4 linked regions of the Homo sapiens genome follow. The protein of the gene in region 4 interacts with the protein of the main gene of each other region in a biochemical or structural test. Each region holds a gene or a part of one and is shown on either strand. Other genes may lie near its edges.

What was found. Proteins that work in one complex are often made in the same cells at the same time.
Region 1: the proteins of DPF2 (region 4) and SMARCB1 form a complex in vitro, tested with the Homo sapiens proteins (one study listed by BioGRID).
Region 2: the proteins of DPF2 (region 4) and NFKB1 form a complex in vitro, tested with the Homo sapiens proteins (2 studies listed by BioGRID).
Region 3: the proteins of DPF2 (region 4) and SMARCA2 form a complex in vitro, tested with the Homo sapiens proteins (one study listed by BioGRID).

Annotation. Positions count from the first base shown.
Region 1 is NC_000022.11:23,824,966-23,829,377, forward strand, and holds part of SMARCB1 (SWI/SNF-related matrix-associated actin-dependent regulator of chromatin subfamily B member 1), read left to right. Parts: intron 1-259; coding exon 260-450; intron 451-4,412.
Region 2 is NC_000004.12:102,595,359-102,599,770, reverse strand, and holds part of NFKB1 (nuclear factor NF-kappa-B p105 subunit), read right to left. Parts: intron 3,634-4,412; coding exon 3,439-3,633; intron 2,252-3,438; coding exon 2,110-2,251; exon of another isoform or gene 36-2,109; intron 1-35.
Region 3 is NC_000009.12:2,056,847-2,061,258, forward strand, and holds part of SMARCA2 (SWI/SNF-related matrix-associated actin-dependent regulator of chromatin subfamily A member 2), read left to right. Parts: intron 1-1,444; coding exon 1,445-1,618; intron 1,619-3,969; coding exon 3,970-4,140; intron 4,141-4,412. UniProt on the Homo sapiens protein: ATPase involved in transcriptional activation and repression of select genes by chromatin remodeling (alteration of DNA-nucleosome topology).
Region 4 is NC_000011.10:65,345,953-65,351,278, forward strand, and holds part of DPF2 (zinc finger protein ubi-d4), read left to right. Parts: coding exon 1-106; intron 107-294; coding exon 295-407; intron 408-2,897; coding exon 2,898-2,979; intron 2,980-5,326. UniProt on the Homo sapiens protein: Plays an active role in transcriptional regulation by binding modified histones H3 and H4. Is a negative regulator of myeloid differentiation of hematopoietic progenitor cells. Might also have a role in the development and maturation of lymphoid cells.

The DNA.
Region 1 (4,412 bases), on a different chromosome or scaffold from region 4:
CTCAGGTGCCCCCGGGGTCACTTCAGGGCCTCCCGAGGGTGACTGTGCTGGGCCCTGAGCCAGAGCCCCTCATGGCAGACAGGGTTGTGGGGTCAGCCTTGTTTTGGGGATGGGGAACTGGAAGGACAAGGACCACCTGCAGTTCTCAGCTGGTGGACCCTGGTGGGCAGGGCCCACCCCAGGCCTGGCAGGGCCCCGCTCCTCGCGGCCTCCCTGGGCTGCAAAAGCTCTAACTTGTGTCCTTTGGTTGTTGCCTCAGCTGAACATCCATGTGGGAAACATTTCCCTGGTGGACCAGTTTGAGTGGGACATGTCAGAGAAGGAGAACTCACCAGAGAAGTTTGCCCTGAAGCTGTGCTCGGAGCTGGGGTTGGGCGGGGAGTTTGTCACCACCATCGCATACAGCATCCGGGGACAGCTGAGCTGGCATCAGAAGACCTACGCCTTCAGGTAGGATCATGCATGAGTCTCTCCCTCCCTCATCTCCCTGCAAAACTGTTTTGAGAAAGACTTCTCTGTGTGAGCGGTGATACCTTTGAGGCTTTCTCACGCTTCGCAGCACAATCTGGCTGGGGTCTGTGTGTTTGCTCCGTCCTCCTCCTGCCCTATGTATCTCTCCAGGGCTCCGCTGTGCCAGGTAGGGTTAGAAGCACCTAACACAATAGCTGGCAAAGACTTGGAGTTCTGTCAGGGTGAACCTCAAGTCCTTGCCTCCACGGAGCCCTGGCCTGCCCCCACCATCCACCATTCAGTTGTCCTGCCCCACACCCTCTCTCTCTGCTCTTGCCCAGACTGTTATTTTGGTCAGGGTGACCCCTGCCCAGGGTTCTTCATCTGTTGAACTTGAATTATGTCTTAAACACAAAGGCCCGCCCAGCTTTTGAGAGTCAGGGGTCCCTAGCAGCTCCTTCTTACTCTAGTATCTCTGCCTTTGGTCAGTCAGAGAGCATTTGATGAGTACCATGCTGGGCTGGACCCCATCCTGGCTGCCCTGGAAGATAGAGACAGGTCACCTTGATCCCTGCCTGTAGCATTTGGGCTGGCTGAGATGGTGGAAGTGTGAACAGAATATTCCAGTCCAGTGTCCTCTGTGGTAGGGATGGGGATGGACCCGGGAGAGGCCCTCCTGTTCCTGGCAGGAGGTGGGACTCAGAGTTAAAAGTGAGGTCAAGGCCCAGTGCGATGGCTCACACCTGCAGTCCTAGCACTTCGCGGAGCTGAGGTGGATCACCAGAACCCAGTAGTTCAAGACCAGCCTGGGAAAAACATGGTGAGACCCCACCTCTACAAAAAAAAAAAAATAGAAAAAATGAGCCGGGCATGTTGGTACATGCCTGTAGTTTCAGCTACTCAGGAAGCTGAGGTGGGAGGATCGCCTGAGCTCAAGAGGTGGAGGCTGCAGTGAGCCAAGATCACACCACTGCACTCCAGCCTGGGTGACAGAGCGAGACCCTGTCTCCAAAAAAAAAAAAAAAAATAGCGAGGTTGAACTCTCCCGGCTCAGCAGGACTCTAGGACTGGGAAGCCCCGTGGTTCCTCACCCTGTCCTCTGTGTTGGGATGGGGTGGGGGTGCAGCAAGCATCCCTACATCAAAACAGGATGTTCAGATTTAGTCTGCTCATCAGACTATCATCATCCACATCTGCAGTCATCACTCAGGGATGACAGCTTAAAATGCTACATGAGGAGCAAATAGGAAGGTCTGTTTTGCAAAGCCATGACAATTAATGGAGCTCGTTAGGTTTGTGTCTAACTTGTTTTCCCAGACATCCCAAGAGACAGCTTTCTATGACTTCCCATAAATCTGAGCAAGGAAGAAGGAATGAGAGCCACCCACGGGGCTCAAGGGCCCGGGCCTGGGAAACAGCTGAGTCCCTGCCTGAGCGCCATGGTGCTGAGATCCTGTGACCTGCCCCCCAGCAGCCCTGCCAGTCACATGGTTCTGCTTCACAGACAGGGCAGCCCAGAGAGGAGGCTGGGGGGCTGGTGTCTGATGCCTCCCTGTTCCCTCGGGGTGTTGCCTGGGAGTGCAGCTGTAGCGTGCATTCACCCTGCACAGAGCCAAGCCCTATGGCCGGAGAGCCAGTCAAGGGTGGCCTCCCTCCACCAGAGTTGACTCTGAGGCCCCGGGAGGCAGTCATGTTGCGCGCATCAACACTGAGCACCTCCTCCCGCAGAGGCTGATCCAGTCAGAACCCTCGTCTTGGGCTCACAGGTGCAGGTGGTAGGCTGGCTGCCCCCAGCATCCAGCCCCTACGGTGTTGACCTTCACCTAGTCCTGCAGCCGCTGCCAGTGCCCACAGTCCAGGGTCAGGAACTGAAGTCCCCGGGGCCTCTTGACAGGTCCTTGCAACATCCCTTCTTTCAGCCACCATGGCACCATCCCTCCTGCTCTGACCCGAAGGTGACCTGAGCCTAAATTCCTTTCCAAGTTCCGGGCCCTCTGCAGTTTGCAGAGTGGCTCCAGAGCAGACCCCCTGGGGAGTCCCTGGTGGTGGCAGGTCAGGATTTAGAGGCAGAGGCGGGCCCCTTCTTTATCTCATCGACCACTTAGTGCATTCCAGTTGCAGGGCCTGGGGGCATCACAGACCCCCTGCCCCCTGCTCTCTCTTATGCTGAGAATGCAGGTTTCAAATCTTTGGGGTTAAAGGCAAAGGCCATCCCGCTGGGACCAAGGTGAGCACACGTCCCTATCACAGCAGCCAGATGGAGAGGCGGCCTGCCTGGGGAACTGGGAAGTGTCCTGAGTGGGCTTTTAGCATCAGGAGGGCTGCGTGTGTCTTCCCAGTCCCCACACTGGAAGACAGCTGCAAGGATAGGACAGGGCCTTAGGGTTGGGCTGTCATCCCTGACTCCAACTCGCGTTCCCCCCACTGTACCACCCCACCCCATGGGATCTTAGGAGGGACTTCGTTTAACTCTGTCCCCAGGGAGACCAGTGTCAGTCCTGCCTGGCCCTGCCTGGGGAAAGGAGGCTGGGCCACTGAGTCCCCAGGTCCAGGGGCCAGTCAGCCCACAGAGAGCTAGACCAGGAGTCCTGGCCTGGTCTCTGCCACACAGAAAGCTTGGCAACTGCTGTGTCACATGACTTTTTGTTTTGTTTTGAGATGGGGTCTCGCTCTGTCGCCCAGGCTGGAGTGCAGTGGCGTGATCTCGGCTCACTGCAAGCTCTGCCTCCTGGGTTCACGCCATTCTCCTGCCTCAGGCTCCTGAGTAGATGGGACTACAGGTGCCCGCCACCACGCCCAGCTAATTTTTGTGTTTTTAGTAGAGACGGGGTTTCACCGTATTAGCTAGGATGGTCTGGATCTCCTGACCTTGTGATCCACCCATCTCGGCCTCCCAAAGTGCTGGGATTACAGGCGTGAGCCACCGCGCTCGGCCACATGACTTCTTAAGAAGGGTTTTCAGGCTAGGCATGGTGGCTCACGCCTGTAATCCCAGCACTTTGGGAGGCCGAGGTGGGCGGATCACCTGAGGTCAGGAGTTAGAGACAGGCCAACATGGCAAAACCCCGTCTCTACTAGAAGTAGAAAAATTAGCCAGGTGTGGTGGTGGGCACCCGTAATCCCAGCTACTCGGGAGGCTGAGGCAGGAGAATTGCTTGAACCCGTGAGGCGGAGATTGCAGTGAGCTGAGATTGCACCATTGTGCTCCAGCCCGACAGAGCTAGACTCCATCTCAAAAAAAAGGGTTTTCAGCTCTGGACCTAGGTCACTCCATAATGGAAGCACTCGCTGATTCCCCAAGAGCCAGTCCCTCCATCTCTCCCAGCCAGAGCTCAGTGCCTGACTTCCATACCCTCCTCGGCAGTGGGGACATTGATTGGATCCATGGTACAGTGGGGCAAGCTGCTGGCCACAGGACATGTGTGTGCAAGGCCACTATGCCCACACCTCAGGGGAACCAGGGCAGAGAACAGCCTGTTCCCTTTGGCAGTGGGACAGACAGGAGACAAGCATGAAGGGGAAACAGGGGCATGTGACAAACTGGTCAGAAGCCCTAGGCTCCTAGAGGACAGACTGGGACCAGAGTGACACAGGCGTCCCAGAGCCAGTGGAGTGGGATGAAGGGCCAGCGAAAGGAGGGAGACAGGGCTCAAGGGGAAGGAGGCTGGGCTAGGCAGAGCCTCTGAGGAGAGCTGATCCTGCAAAGTTACTGGCACCTCCCCTGGGCCAGCCCTGTGTTCCTGGCCAGGGACGGGAGGAGACAGTGCCCTGTCTGGCAGAGGAAACAGATTCATGTGCATGACTATCAGTGTGCCATGGCCACAGAAAGCACCGGAGGCTGTGGGCATGAGGAAGGGCAGTTGGGGGCATAGAACCTGGGGTGAGGATGGCCAGGGCAGGTGCTGATGGGGGACTGCAGCAGGAAGGACCGAGAGGAGACCAGGGACAGGCAGGTGCTTGAG
Region 2 (4,412 bases), on a different chromosome or scaffold from region 4:
CCTATGAGTTAGGTAATATTATCTTCACTTTTCAGCTAATGAAACTGAGACTTGCAGGCGTCATATAACTCAGTCAAGGCCAATACGTGGTGAAGCTGGGATTCAAGCCCAGGCCTGTCTTACTCCAAAGCCATCTCTTAATCCCTTAAGCAATCCTGCATAGGGGATACATGTGCACTGTTCTAAAGACATTCAGATGAATGTCTAAGAAGATGACCACTCCAGAGCATGGACAGATTGAGGTGCAGAGCACACTAAAGCATCTCGCAGCAGCACTACATCTGGGACACGAGGTACAGGCTGGATCTTCTCTAAAATAAGCTATCAGGTGCCACTTTACTCAAGCCTCTTCCTTAGCAATAGCAAGTATATCGTACTTGGGATTAACTCCGGCACAGAAGAGCCTAAAAAACTAAATTGTGATTTTGCTACTTGAGAAATATTTTAAAACGGATGATCTCAGGGTTTCACTATTGCTTCTTGAAATGTGATACTGGAAGAAGACTTCTGAAAAGGGCCTAAACTCTGACATAGACATGATGCACATACACCAAGAAAAAGGTCATACTTCTAAAACTGCTCGAAAATTTCCATGTGCCGCTCAGCATTTCATAGCAGAAGTACATTCCCCCTCCCCCTCAAATCCTCACACCCTTATGGGAATTTCCCCAATAGCAGAAGTTTTATATATTTTTCTTTATTATATTTTCTATGATGACTAATGGCCACAGGATTTAAACTATTAGCCAAATATGACGAGCTGAATTAAAACAAGAGACTTGGGCTGTGATGGCCAAAAGCTGCCCTATACCTATGCTCTTATGAGGATCCTCTGGTCTCTCCAAGTCCCAAATCTGTGGCCTCTCTGAGAGCCGGCTTGTGTGAGTGTGCTTGGGTCTTAGGAGGGAACTTGCATGTGCCTCGCCTTGTATCCCTTCCAACAATCCTCCCTTCAGATATCAGCACTTCCTTTCTAACCTGTATGTGCTCATCTTCTTAGACTTATCAATTTAACAGGTCCCTGGAAATGCCACTTGAAACACTGCTGTACTGTCTTGGTTAACTGCTTTTTCTTGTGGTTGTATGCTACTGAATGCTAACTGGATTATTTAACCCTGAAAAAGAATTCTGCTGTTCATGGCTTTATACCAAGAAGGTTGTACTGGTTCCTCTCATACTGTATAACAAGGCCAGTGGTTATACCACATCCTTGGTTACGTTGCAAGGAATGAGAACAAAGGTGTCTCTGCTTGAAACCCTGAGGTTGTTACTTTCCTAAAGTGCTTGGTTTAATTTTTAAACTGAAGTCTAAAACACAGCACTCAAGAGCTCTTCCACAGAAAAGGATTTCTCTATGTTGATGCTATTTTAGGAAGGTTTTAGATAAGGCACTTGACTTGAATGTGAAGGCTGCTGTCTCTTGTTATTTTTATAGGCTTTTGAGATCATTTTAGAAGTCTCAATGAAAGGACTAAGAGAACTGTTTTAGAAAGAAGCCAGGTGGCTTTGCAAATACAATCTCAGTAATAGCAAGAATGGAAGGCATGGTGTTTGGAATGTTCCACTCCCACATATGGGCTGGAGCAGTCACAAAAGTCTGAAACAGTCATAGACTGATGACCATCAGAAGAGGGAGCAGAGAAGAAACCAGTAACTGGGAAATAATGACCAGTCCCTCTTAATCTTTCTGTTGTTGTTGCTGCCTTTATTGGGCTTTTTCTTGAGTACACTGTCATAAATATGCAGCTGGGATAACAATGCTTCAGGGATTTGGTAGGACTCTTAACAATTCTCCAAATATTACTTCAATAAACAAAGCAAGGCTTTTCAAAAAGTACCATTACCTACACACATCTTAGTTTTCTTGCCCAGAGAGATTCACTCTTAGATGAGTCCTCCAGCTACTACAGATTCCAACAGATGACAGCAGCAGGATGGAGCAGCAAATTGTGCTACTTAACCTTATTCACACATTATTTTTCTTCATCATTCCAGTTAGAGGACTCAATATATTTGAACAATTATTTTTATCTCTAGTCAGTATGCATTATACGATGCTCTTCTTCTTCCCCACCCAGGACAACCTATCATGCAAAAGTTCTGACTTACCTGTCCCCATTCTCATCCTGCACAGCAGTGAGATGGCGCTGGACGGCCAGCAGCATCTTCACGTCTCCTGTCACCGCGTAGTCGAAAAGGGCATTGGCATGCCTCTTTGCAAGCTGCATAGCCTTCTCTAGAAAGAGGTTATCTGTAAGGCAATGACCACAATCATAGTTGAGTGTTCCTACTTTTGTTTTATGGGTATGGCATGCTTAAGGACAAACTGACCAGCATCAGTGTTCTGACACCTTGACATATCATTTTAGTTGAAAATGTTCTTTCAATGCTTTTGGATTGTGTGGACTAGAAAAAGCAGAATTGGACACTGGGTCACTGACAAATATAGTTAGAGATTGATCTTAAAGAATCTGTGTATGATTTGTTAGAGGAAAAAAGTTTAGAAATGTATTATTTTAAGGGAACGACCATTATCTGTTATTTTAAGGAAAACAATCTCCAAACAATGTTAGATTTTACCATGATTTTAAATCACCAATATCTTGGTGAAATAATCCTTCATTGGAATCTCTAACAATTAGCTTGTTAGGCAATGTGTGAAAAAACACACATCTCTGCCATAAACAGAGACGTTCAATGAGCCACTCACGTTTTTGTAAAGTTTGTTCCATTAAGGTCAGGGAATGGCATTTGTGACCTTTGGGCCAAAACCTGTTTATGGCCTGCTTTTCATATAGCTCCCTAGCTAATCATGGCTTATACATTTTTAAAGGGGTGTAAAAAAAAAGCATATGTGATAGACACCACATGTGGCCACCAACTCTAAATATTTACTACCTTTGCTTTTATAGACGTCTTCTTAGTACGATCTAGGATGACCTAGAATCATGACACATATGCTAATAAGTATTGGTTCACAGTAAACGCAAAAGTACATTTTCTCCTAATCCTACTTCTTCAAAGAGGGCACAAGATAAAAAGAAAAGTTCCTATTTTAAGGCAAAGTTCTATTTCAGTATGACGGTTAAGCCAGAATCTAGACAGGGTGACTATTAAGCTTGTGGAAATACTTCTCTATTTATCTGTGCCAGAAAAGAAGTTGATTATCTCTCACAATACCCTAAAACTGCATGATTATGACTGGAGAATGTACATATAAATTTCTGTCCTTTACATTCAAAGATAACAGAGCAAAAATGGAAATCCCAGTGTGAATAAAATGATCTGACATATGCTTTTCCAAAGGCATACAGAACTTTGAAGAGTACACTAAACTAGATATTGATATATCATCTTTAGATTAGCAGATATCTTTCTGCACCTAGGACTGACCCCTCCCCAGCCAACCAACAGAACGTAATTTGTGTGCTCACTTACCCTGAACTCCAGCACTCTCTTCTTTTGTTCCTGTTGCATACGTTAGAGTGACCTCACCATTCCCAACGGTGGCCTCGCTGGGCTCCTGATCTTGCTCTGTGGTTTCAATAACTTTCCCAAAGAGGTTTACAGTGTTTTTGTCATCACTTTTGTCACAACCTTCAGGGTCCTTTTTAGATTCAGTGTCCATGGTTCCTAAGATAAATGCAAAAACATCAGATTTTTCTCAGTAAAATGTATTTAGTGATAATTCGCTATTCCAATGTAGGTCAGATAAAGGTAAGAGACAAGTTTGCTGCAAAAGGAAAAGAAAAATAATAATTTAAAATTCTTTTAAAAATGGTCATATCATAAATACCATGTTTTGGAGATATTCTAAACTCATTTCTAAAAATCATTTTTAGTATACTTCTAAAATCTTAAATCTCATTTTGCTTATTTGTAAAGGAGAAAAATGAAATAAAGCTCTTCTATGAATTGCAGGAAAGCTGAATTTTTAAAGTTCTTGAAAACAGAGCAGTTTTTTCCTAATGCTAATGAACAAAGCAAATCATAAAGACGTGTTGTCGACTCACATTCTTTAGTGTGGGAGTTATCCAGTGTACCATTCCTGATCACCCTCTTTCAGGTTCAACTATGTTATCTGACAGATACTATGAGAGCATCTAGCTTTTCTGCAGGAGACCTGCTTCAAATTCTTGTTCTGCCACTAACTTCTGTGTGCCTTCAGTGAGTACGAACATTTCTGAACTTTGATGCCTTTTGTGTGCAAAATGGAGTTACTATTTTCCATATAGAGCAGTCATGAAGATAACAGTTAAAACATGTAAAAGCACTTGGCACAAAAATAGGTATTCAATAAATGGGAAGACTTCTTTATAGTATTATTTCTTCCATGGGTACACTAGAATGGACCTGTAATATAAACTATCAACATGTGGTTTAACTGCAGCTTCTCAGGGGATGACTTGATG
Region 3 (4,412 bases), on a different chromosome or scaffold from region 4:
TTCTTAGACCCTGGGCTTTGCTCACCCTCACTTTGGCAGAGCTGTCCAATGAATTCATCAAATGGGGTCAGAATGACTGAAAAATGGACCCTTGTGGGTGGTGGGGACATCACAGAACAGAACGGTTCCTTGACATGTACATAATCCAACCACATCATTTTATAGACAAAGACGCTTAAGCCAGGACGTATAAATGACTGCCCAAGGTCATACAATTGCTTAGCAGCACAATGAGGTTTAGTATTGTCTTAGTTTGTCTGGGCTGCTATAAAAAAATAGCACAAACTGGGTGGTTGATGAGCAACAGAAGTTTATTTTTCACCGTTCTGGAGGCTGGAAGCCTGAGATCAGGGTACTAGCATGGCTGGGCTCTGGTGAGGGTCTTCTTCTGGGTTGCAAACTGTTAACTTCTCCTTGTTTTCTTACGTGGTGGAAGCAGGCCAAGAAAGCTCTCCGGGCTTCCTTTATAAGGGCACTAATCCCATTCGTAAGGGCTCTACCCTCATGACCTTATCACCTCCCGAAGACCCCACCTCCTAATACCATTACATTGGGAGTTAGCATTTCAATATATAAATTTTGGGAGGACACAAACATTCAGTCCATAACAGGTGTCATGTTCATAATCCCATGGGAAGTTTTTGAATGGGTGGGCATAGGTGGATTTCCTAGAGCAAAATTCTGGGAGCAGGAACTTGGAAAAGGAAAGTAGAAAGCAAAAAGTTATTTTCATAACAAATATAATAGTGTCCTGGCTTCTCTGAAGGGCCTAGTTGAATGTTTCACAGAGGCAAATATTAAAAACATTCCTTTCTGGGGGTTTGGAAATATTTTGATGTAGGATTTGATTTCCTGTCATAGTCCTGTAAATTGTATTTGTTTTCCTGTGCTTAATTTAGTGCTTAGCTTAGTTTCCTTTTGAAAAAATGTTGGATTTTAGTGTAAATAGAGTATATATTTAAAAAGTGGATACAAATTCTGCATGGCAATTTTAACTTTGTATAAACTTATTTTGTGTCATACTCTAGGGTAGTTAGAGCAGAAAAACATTACTTTTGTGACATACTTTTTGCTGGAAATACTCATGTTCCTCAGGTTTATTTTGGAGTGAATGAGTGGTTTGCTTTACATTTTATCATTGCCATTTTGTAGGTCTCTTTCAGTCTTCGATCTTTCCATTCTCATGTGGCCACACCCTCAAGGCTAAGGAGGCTTCTCTTGCTAAAGCTTACAACAAAAGGAACCCGAAGAGGCTATCTTTCCCACCAGCCCCATGGCCCACACCTTAACTGCAGAGACACCAGGGCACCTATCCCCAAACAGATTCTAGTCTTCCTATGCTGTTAAACACACACTGAGAGTTTTCTTGGACAACACTGATAGCTCAGAGGACACTGGTCATTGGATTTTAAGTATCCTTTTCTTCCCTTTTTGGATCTTCTAGGAATACCTGAACAGTATTTTGCAACATGCAAAAGATTTTAAGGAATATCATCGGTCTGTGGCCGGAAAGATCCAGAAGCTCTCCAAAGCAGTGGCAACTTGGCATGCCAACACTGAAAGAGAGCAGAAGAAGGAGACAGAGCGGATTGAAAAGGAGAGAATGCGGCGACTGATGGTAAGGAACTCCCTGCAGGAGCCCAGGAAACTACTCAACCCACGTCCGTCTGCAATGAGACCATTAAATATGGTGGTAGTAGAAGGAAAAAATGAAAACTGCTTATCAAAAATTTTAGTAAATTTCTTTGAACCTTAGGGAGATGAAGTAAAAACTTTTTCTCTTTCCTGGAGAATGCATGCCAAAAATCTAGGGGGATGACTGATGCGTATAGTATTTCTGTGTCCTGGGGTGGCATTGCGCGGTACACATTACAGCTTCTCTCATAAAAGCAGGTACTGTATTTTGCATGAGTTTGATAACCAGATCTGGAAGGATGGCAAATGCAGTTCTTTTAAAAATATGGCCTCTTTGAGATGAATGACCACGTTTTTTGGAATGAATAACACATTAAGTCGTGTCTTCAAATCTAAGAAGGTCTGTGTTTTGAAGCCTCTGGTGCTTATCTTTCTTTTTTAATGGCAGAAATTATTCTCTAACAGTGTAATAAGTGATTTTTAAGTTGATTTTGAAATGTTGCCTTTTTTGTGATAGCCTTGTTATGGTCAAAGGCTATTCATGGATTATTACATTTGCACTGTTATTTTTTAATGGGCATATAAGCACAGAAGAGATAGGTTTATATCATTGGCCTGAGTATTTGTTTTTATTGACCATTTATTTTTGGAATTGGACCTCAGAGCACACTGTGGATTTTAGAAAAGCGTGTGTGTGTGTGATGTTATAATTATAGGAGACCTGCAGATTCTATCTAGGACGTAATGCCTGCATAGATGAAGATAAGGTCATTAGTCTCAGACCATAATTATGTTCCTGGAAAATTCTAAGTGACACTGTCTTCCTGGCTGGTATTACAGTTTGCATTTTTTTCATTTTTTGGATTCCAGAGAGTAAACACCATGTTTTAAAAGCCTCTGTGTGCAGGTACTACTACATCTTACTACCCTATCCTGCCTCCCTCTCCATACCAGGGAGAGAGGACTGTCCGAGAGGTTTCTGACTAGACCGTTTTTGTAGTAATTTGATCACTAAGCAGTCAAATTTGTCTGACTCAACTGAAGTGAAACTATATTAGAACTTCAGTAACAGATTGGTTTGACACTAATGATTAGGCATTTGCAAATCATTAATTTTTGCAATTAAGTGATGGAATATACAGATAATAGAGAAACTGAAGTTTTTTATCACTCTTTCTTCAAGTGAGTTCAACCATAACCGAAAGCAATTAGAGTTATAATAGCATTTGAGGCTCTTGCTCATCCACAGGGCAGACGGCAGCTAGACTGAGTGATGAAGCTGCTGTCACTCAGGCAGATGCTAGAGTGACACCCCTGGACAAAAGATCCCAAGTTTTTGTTTTTGTTTTTGCAATGGAGTTGCCTCTTAAAGATTTTGCAGCTTGCTCCTTTTATCGTGGCATTACATGATAAAAATAATTTGGAGTGTCCTTTTATTGGGATACACAAAGAGATTTCTCTCAAAATGGCTTAGAGTACATCAGAGTTTTATTCTGTTTAACCTCATCATGTTGCTTAATGGGAGGTGGAGGTGGGAATTACTGTATCTATTTTATTGCTCAGCAGTACCAGACTTCAGGTGCTAAGTGACTTGTCTCCAGTCACCTGGGCCCATTACTCAGTGCAGATCTGTGGCCAAAAAAAAAAAAAAAAAAAAAAAAAAAAAAAATCCCCCAAATTTGATCTTTCCTGTTAACCACAAAGTTTGTAATGCCAAAAAGAAAGACTTTTTAAAATATAAGACATTATTTGTTAAAAGCCCATTTGATTCCTTGCCTTTAGTAGTACTTTTTGAAATATTTATGAATGAAAGGATATTATGTCTGGAATTTGCTTCAAGACAATTCAGTTTGGGTTTAGAAGAAGAGTAGCAATGAAACAGGAGTCATCACAAGTGAATTTTTGTTGTTTGGGGTTGGTTATAGGAGAAATTAAACTATTCTCTCTGCTTTTGATTATATTTGAAAATGTCTAAAATATAGAGTTAAAGATAAAGTTTAGATCATGAATTGTCAAATTCTAAAATCTTTTTGTACAGTTAAAGCAACACAGAAAACAAAGAGCTTGGCTCAGAGTGCTTAATCACACCACACGTACAGTGTGGCTTTGTGCCCGGACTTTGCTGTAAACTCCAGTGTCCTGGGATGTAGGCGTCACACTTCTGTGTGTTTGTCCCACTTCAGACTCTGTGCAATGGCTTGAACAGCCCAACTCATCCAGTTTGCTACACTCCTACCAGTCAAAATGCAGACTGTCAAGGGGAGGACAGAGTGGAGAGTGGAGTTGTCTGCACGCTTATATTATGCTCTCATCCTGCTCTTCTTTCCTTAATAGGCTGAAGATGAGGAGGGTTATAGAAAACTGATTGATCAAAAGAAAGACAGGCGTTTAGCTTACCTTTTGCAGCAGACCGATGAGTATGTAGCCAATCTGACCAATCTGGTTTGGGAGCACAAGCAAGCCCAGGCAGCCAAAGAGAAGAAGAAGAGGAGGAGGAGGAAGAAGGTGCGTATCCTAGTGGTGGTGGCTGAGTCCAGGGTGTATGGGCAGGGATAAGTTTTTAAGGCGAGTATTGCTCTTTAAGTACTACTTCTTACACTGGTGGAAGGTTTAGATGATTGAATTGTGAAAATTGCATAAATGGGTATGGCATGGAAGTGTTGATTAGGTACACTAGACAACTATTGGAGGTAAGGGCATAATAATGGGATATACTAAACTAAAACAATGTTGTTCATAAATCATTGTTTAATAGAAGATTTTAAATTAAGTACATA
Region 4 (5,326 bases):
GCCTTGCCCAACAACTACTGTGACTTCTGCCTGGGGGACTCAAAGATTAACAAGAAGACGGGACAACCCGAGGAGCTGGTGTCCTGTTCTGACTGTGGCCGCTCAGGTACTGCTTCCCGTGAAGGCTGCTGCTTTGCCCAGTCCCCAAGGGGCTCTTGGCTTGCTGGCCTCTAGGGCTGTCATAACCAGCCCACCTCGCTTTTCCTAACCAAGAGAAGATGTAGCCACAGGCAGGAGCTCCTCTCTTCCCCCCGCATTTCCGACTGTCTGTCTCACTCACTTCCCCCACTACAGGGCATCCATCTTGCCTCCAATTTACCCCCGTGATGATGGCGGCAGTGAAGACATACCGCTGGCAGTGCATCGAGTGCAAATGTTGCAATATCTGCGGCACCTCCGAGAATGACGTGTGTATCCCCGCCCCCTCCTCAGCATGGCTCCTTCTGGGCTTTTACTGCTGTTTGCACAGTTCCCTCTAAAGTGAGCTTTCTTTTAAAAAGGGAGCAGGATCCCTCCCACATGCCACACGCCCCTCCCTAGCATCTCAGTCAGAACTCTGATTTGTTGCCAGATATATATTGAGTGCTGATTTTATGTCAGACACTGTTCTAGTCACTAAAGATGCTAAAGACAAACAAGGTCCCTGCCTCATGAGATTTACATTCTTACAGGAACAACAATAAGCAAGGATGTAAATGAGATTTGTATAATGTGCCATGAAAAAAACGAAATCAGTACTGTGGCAGAGAATAATTGCATAAGTGATTTATTTTGATGGTCAGGTATGGCTCTTCTGGGAGGGTGATGCTGGTGTTGAAATTTTGGTGATACCAAGGAGCCAGTCAAGATTTGGAGGTAGAGGAATCCCAGGAAAGGAGCAGCCAGCGCCAAGGCCTTATGTTGGACAAGCCAGATGACAGGGCATGGGAGAGTATGGTGGGCAATGAGATGAGAGAGGCAAGCACTGCCAGATCTCTGGGGCCTCGGGTTTTATTCTAGGTACAACAGGACACTGTTGAAGGGTTTTACTCGGGAAGTGACATGGTTATTTATGTATTTATTTATTTACTTTTTTTTTTTGAGATGGAGTCTTGCTCTGTCGCCCAGGCTGGAGTACAGTGGCACAATCTCAGCTCACTGCAACCTCTGCCTCCTGGGTTCAAGTGATTCTCCTGCCTCAGCCTCCCAAGTAGCTGGGATTACAGACACGTGCCACCACACCCGGCTAATTTTGTATTTTTAGTAGAGATGGGGTTTCTCCATGTTTGCCAGGCTGGTATCGAACTCCTGACCTCCGGTGATCCGCCTGCCTCAGCCTCCCAAAGTGCTGGGATTATAGGCGTGAGCCACTGCACCCAGCTATTTATTTATTCTTTATGTATTTATTTATTTATTTTGAGACAGAGTCTCTCTGTCATCCAGGCTGGAGTGCAGTGACGCGATCTTAGCTCACTAAAACCTTTCCCTTCAGGCTCAAGCAGTACAATCCTCCCACCTCAGCCTCCCGGGTAGCTGGGACCACAGATGCACACCACCATGTCTGGCTACTTTTTTATATTTTTGGTAGAGACAGGGTCTTGCCATATTGCTGAGCTGGTCTCAAACTCCTGAGCTCAAGCAGTCCTCCCACCTTGGCCTCTCAAAGTGCTGGGATTACAGGCATGAACCCACCATGTCTGGCCTTGTCTTATATTTTATTTTATATTTATTTATTTATTTCAAGATGGAGTTTTACTCTTGTCATCCAGGCTGGAGTACAATGGCGCAATCTCGGCTCACTGCAACCTCTGCCTCCCAGGTTCAAGCAATTCTCCTGTCTCAGCCTCCCAGGTAGCTGGGATTACAGGCGCCCGCCACCACGCCTGGCTAATTTTTAGTAGAGACGGGGTTTCACCATGTTGGCCAAGCTAGTTTTCAACTCCTGACCTCAGGTGATCCACCTGCCTCAGCCTCCCAAAATGCTGGTATTACAGGTGTGAGCCACCGTGCTTGGCCCTTGTCTTATATTTTAAAAAGATGACTTTGGGTGCCGTGTGGAGGGTAGACTGTAGGGACAAGGATGGAGGCTCATGCCTGTAATCCTAACACTTGAGAGGCTGAGGCGGGAGGATCACTTGAGCCCAGGAATTCAAGACCAGCCTGAGCAACATAGGGAGATCCTGTCTCCACAAAAAAAATAAACACTTAGCCAGGTGTGGTGGCACACACGTTAGTCCCAGCTACTTGGCAGGCTGAGGTGGGAGGATTGCTTGAACCCAGGAGTTTGAGGCTGCAGTGAGCCATGATCACACCACCGCACTCTAGCCTGGGCAACAAAGCAAGACCTTGTCTCAAAAAGAAATAGTCACTGGGCACGGCGTCTCACACCTGTAATCCAAGCACTTTGGGAGGCTGAGGTGGGAGGATTGCTTGAGCCTGGGATTTCAGGACCAGCCTGGGCAACGTAAGGAGATCTTGTCTCTCCAAAAACATTGAAAAATTAGCTAGGTGTGGTGGTGTGTGCCTATAGTCCCAGCTACTTGAGAGGCTGAGGTAGGAGGATCACTTGGGCCCAGGAGGTCAAGGCTGCAGTGAGCCGTGATTGCACCACTGCACTCCAGCCTGAGTGACAGCAATACCCTGTCTCAAAAAAATATACCATAGAGCTTGGGCTTTAGGGAAAAAAAAAAAAAAAAAAAAGTGGAGGTGATTTGATCAATTAGGAGCTCTGAAAGGACCCAAGTGAGAAATGACAGTGACTGGATCTGCGGTGGAGAGGGGCAGCATGGTTTCCCACATAAGATTCTCACATCTGTTCTTACCTGCTACCTACCCCTCTTGGAAATAGCAGTGTCCTGTAGTGGCCTGAGGCACATCAGTTATTCAGTCCCCATCCTCTTCCCTCTTGCCTACTTCAGGACCAGTTGCTCTTCTGTGATGACTGCGATCGTGGCTACCACATGTACTGTCTCACCCCGTCCATGTCTGAGCCCCCTGAAGGTAAGTTGCCCAGATCTTTTACTCAGAACAATTACTTTATTAGTTACTTGGAAAATACTGAGTTCTATGTTCTTTATGTTATCACTTACATATTCTTCCAAATTAGGGAGTAAAGCACCTTGCCTTGGCTCAGTTTAGAATGCCTTCCTAACATTTCAACTTAAAGGGTTTAGTGTTTGCACATTATCAGCTACATTTACAACAGAAAATCAACAGCCCAGAAGAAAGCAGATGCTGAGCCGAGATCAGGCACCCAGAAGGAATGATTTATTTTCTTCCAACCAGTCCAGAAAACTCAAGTGGTAGATTATCTGATGTGAAACTTCTGCAGTCAACTCTTGAAATTTGATAGATTTGAGCATTTATTTCCTATCCCTTCCCCTTCTGAACTGGGAAGGGACTTGACTTTGGAGCCTGAATGGGTCAGTCTGCTTCTCCGATAACTTACTGTAATAATGGTCCAAATTTATTAAAGCTATTCACTGAAACCAGTGGTGGCACCAAGAATTGGTTGCATCTCCACAAGTCCCCTTCCAGCTGGATTTCTGTACATAAACACCTCCTGTACAGAAATTGAGTAGCAGCTGGGCGCGGTGGCTCAAGCCTGTAATCCCAGCACTTTGGGAGGCCGAGGTGGGCGGATCACGAGGTCAGGACATGGAGACCATCCTGGCTAACACGGTGAAACCCCGTCTCTACTAAAAATACAAAAAAATTAGCCGGCTGTGGTGGCGGGCGCCTGTAGTCCCAGCTACTCAGGAGGCTGAGGCAGGAGAATGGCGTGAACCCGGGAAGCGGAGCTTGCAGTGAACCGAGATCGCACCACTGCACTCCAGCCTGGGCGACAGAGCGAGACTCCATCTCAAAGAAAAAAAAAAAAAAGCCAACAGAAATTCAGTAGCTTACTCAGAACACAAATGCCCAGGAGCTGTTACTGTGCACAAAGGATGTGGGCCAGCATTACAGGCAAGAGAAAGTGTTTCATTGTGTGATGTAAGCTGACTTGTAACATATCGGTCAAACTGCTGTCACCCCTCTAGAGAATGAGGCCCCTGACAATGTCTAAGAGTCCTTTAGCAGCTGTAGGGGAGTACTCAGCTTCTGTCAGGCCCAGTTTATGAATCTGCTTTGGGGAGAAGTCGCATGTTTATGTTTTGTTTTGTTTTGTTTTTTTAAACCATCAAACAGATGATCTATGTTACAGAATGGCTTTCCTATTAAAGTTCTGTGGGACATCGAGGTAGTGGAGAGCTGCAGGCCCGAGTGTCCTCACTGTAGTGTTAAGGCAGCTGAGGGGCAACCCCTAGAAGTATCAGATGTTCTAGGTCAGGGTCAGCAAGCTACAAGCTAAAACCTATGGACCACATCCAGCCACAGCCAGCTTAAATAGCTTGCAAGCTGTTTTGTTTTCTTTTCTTTTCTCTTTTTCTTTTTCTTTCTTTCTTTTTTTTTTTTTTTTTTGAGACAGTGTCTTGTTCTGTTGCCCATGTTGGAGTGGAGTGGCATGATCTCAGCTCACTGCAACCTCTGCTTCCCCGGGCTCAGGTAATCTGGTAATCCTCCCACCTCAGCCTCCTGAGTACCTGGGACTACAGGCATGCCACCACACCCGGCTAATTTTTGTATTTTTAGTAGAGACGGGGTTTTGCCATGGTGCCCAGGCTGGTCTCGAACTCCTGGGCTCAAGTGATCCACCCACCTCAGCTTCCCAAAGTGCTGGGATTACAGGTGTGAACCACTGCATCTAGCCTGAAGAAAATCCCCTTAAAAATATAAAAACTGGCTGTGCACTGTGGCTCGCATCTGTAATCCCAGCACTTTGGGATCTCTTGAGCCCAGGGGTTCAAGACCAGCCTGGGCAGCATGGCAAAACCCCATCTTTACTAAAAATAGAGAAATTAGCTGGGCGTGGTGCTGTGCGCTTGTAATCTCAGCTACTATAGAGGCTGAGGCAAGAGAATTGCTTGAATCTGGGAGGCAGAGGTTAGAGTAAGCTGAGATCACACTGCTGTACTCCAGCCTGAGCAACAGAGCGGAAACTCTTGTCTCAGAAAAAAAAAAAATAAAGGGAGTTAAAAAAAAAATGCATGAGACTGTATGTGGCTCACACACCCTAAAATATTTAACACTCTGGCTCTTTACAGAAAACTTTGCCAACCGTATTGACCTTTGGGTTAGAAAGGACTTACATTTTTGAGTCACCTGTTTCTGAAGAGCTGATAAAAGCCCTAGAATAATGTCCAAATGCGCATAGGTATAATTTTGCTTATCATTTCAAGGCATTAAGGACTAATTTTATTCAAAAAAAATTAGAAGAATTCAGCCATAGTCAATATTAATAAACAAG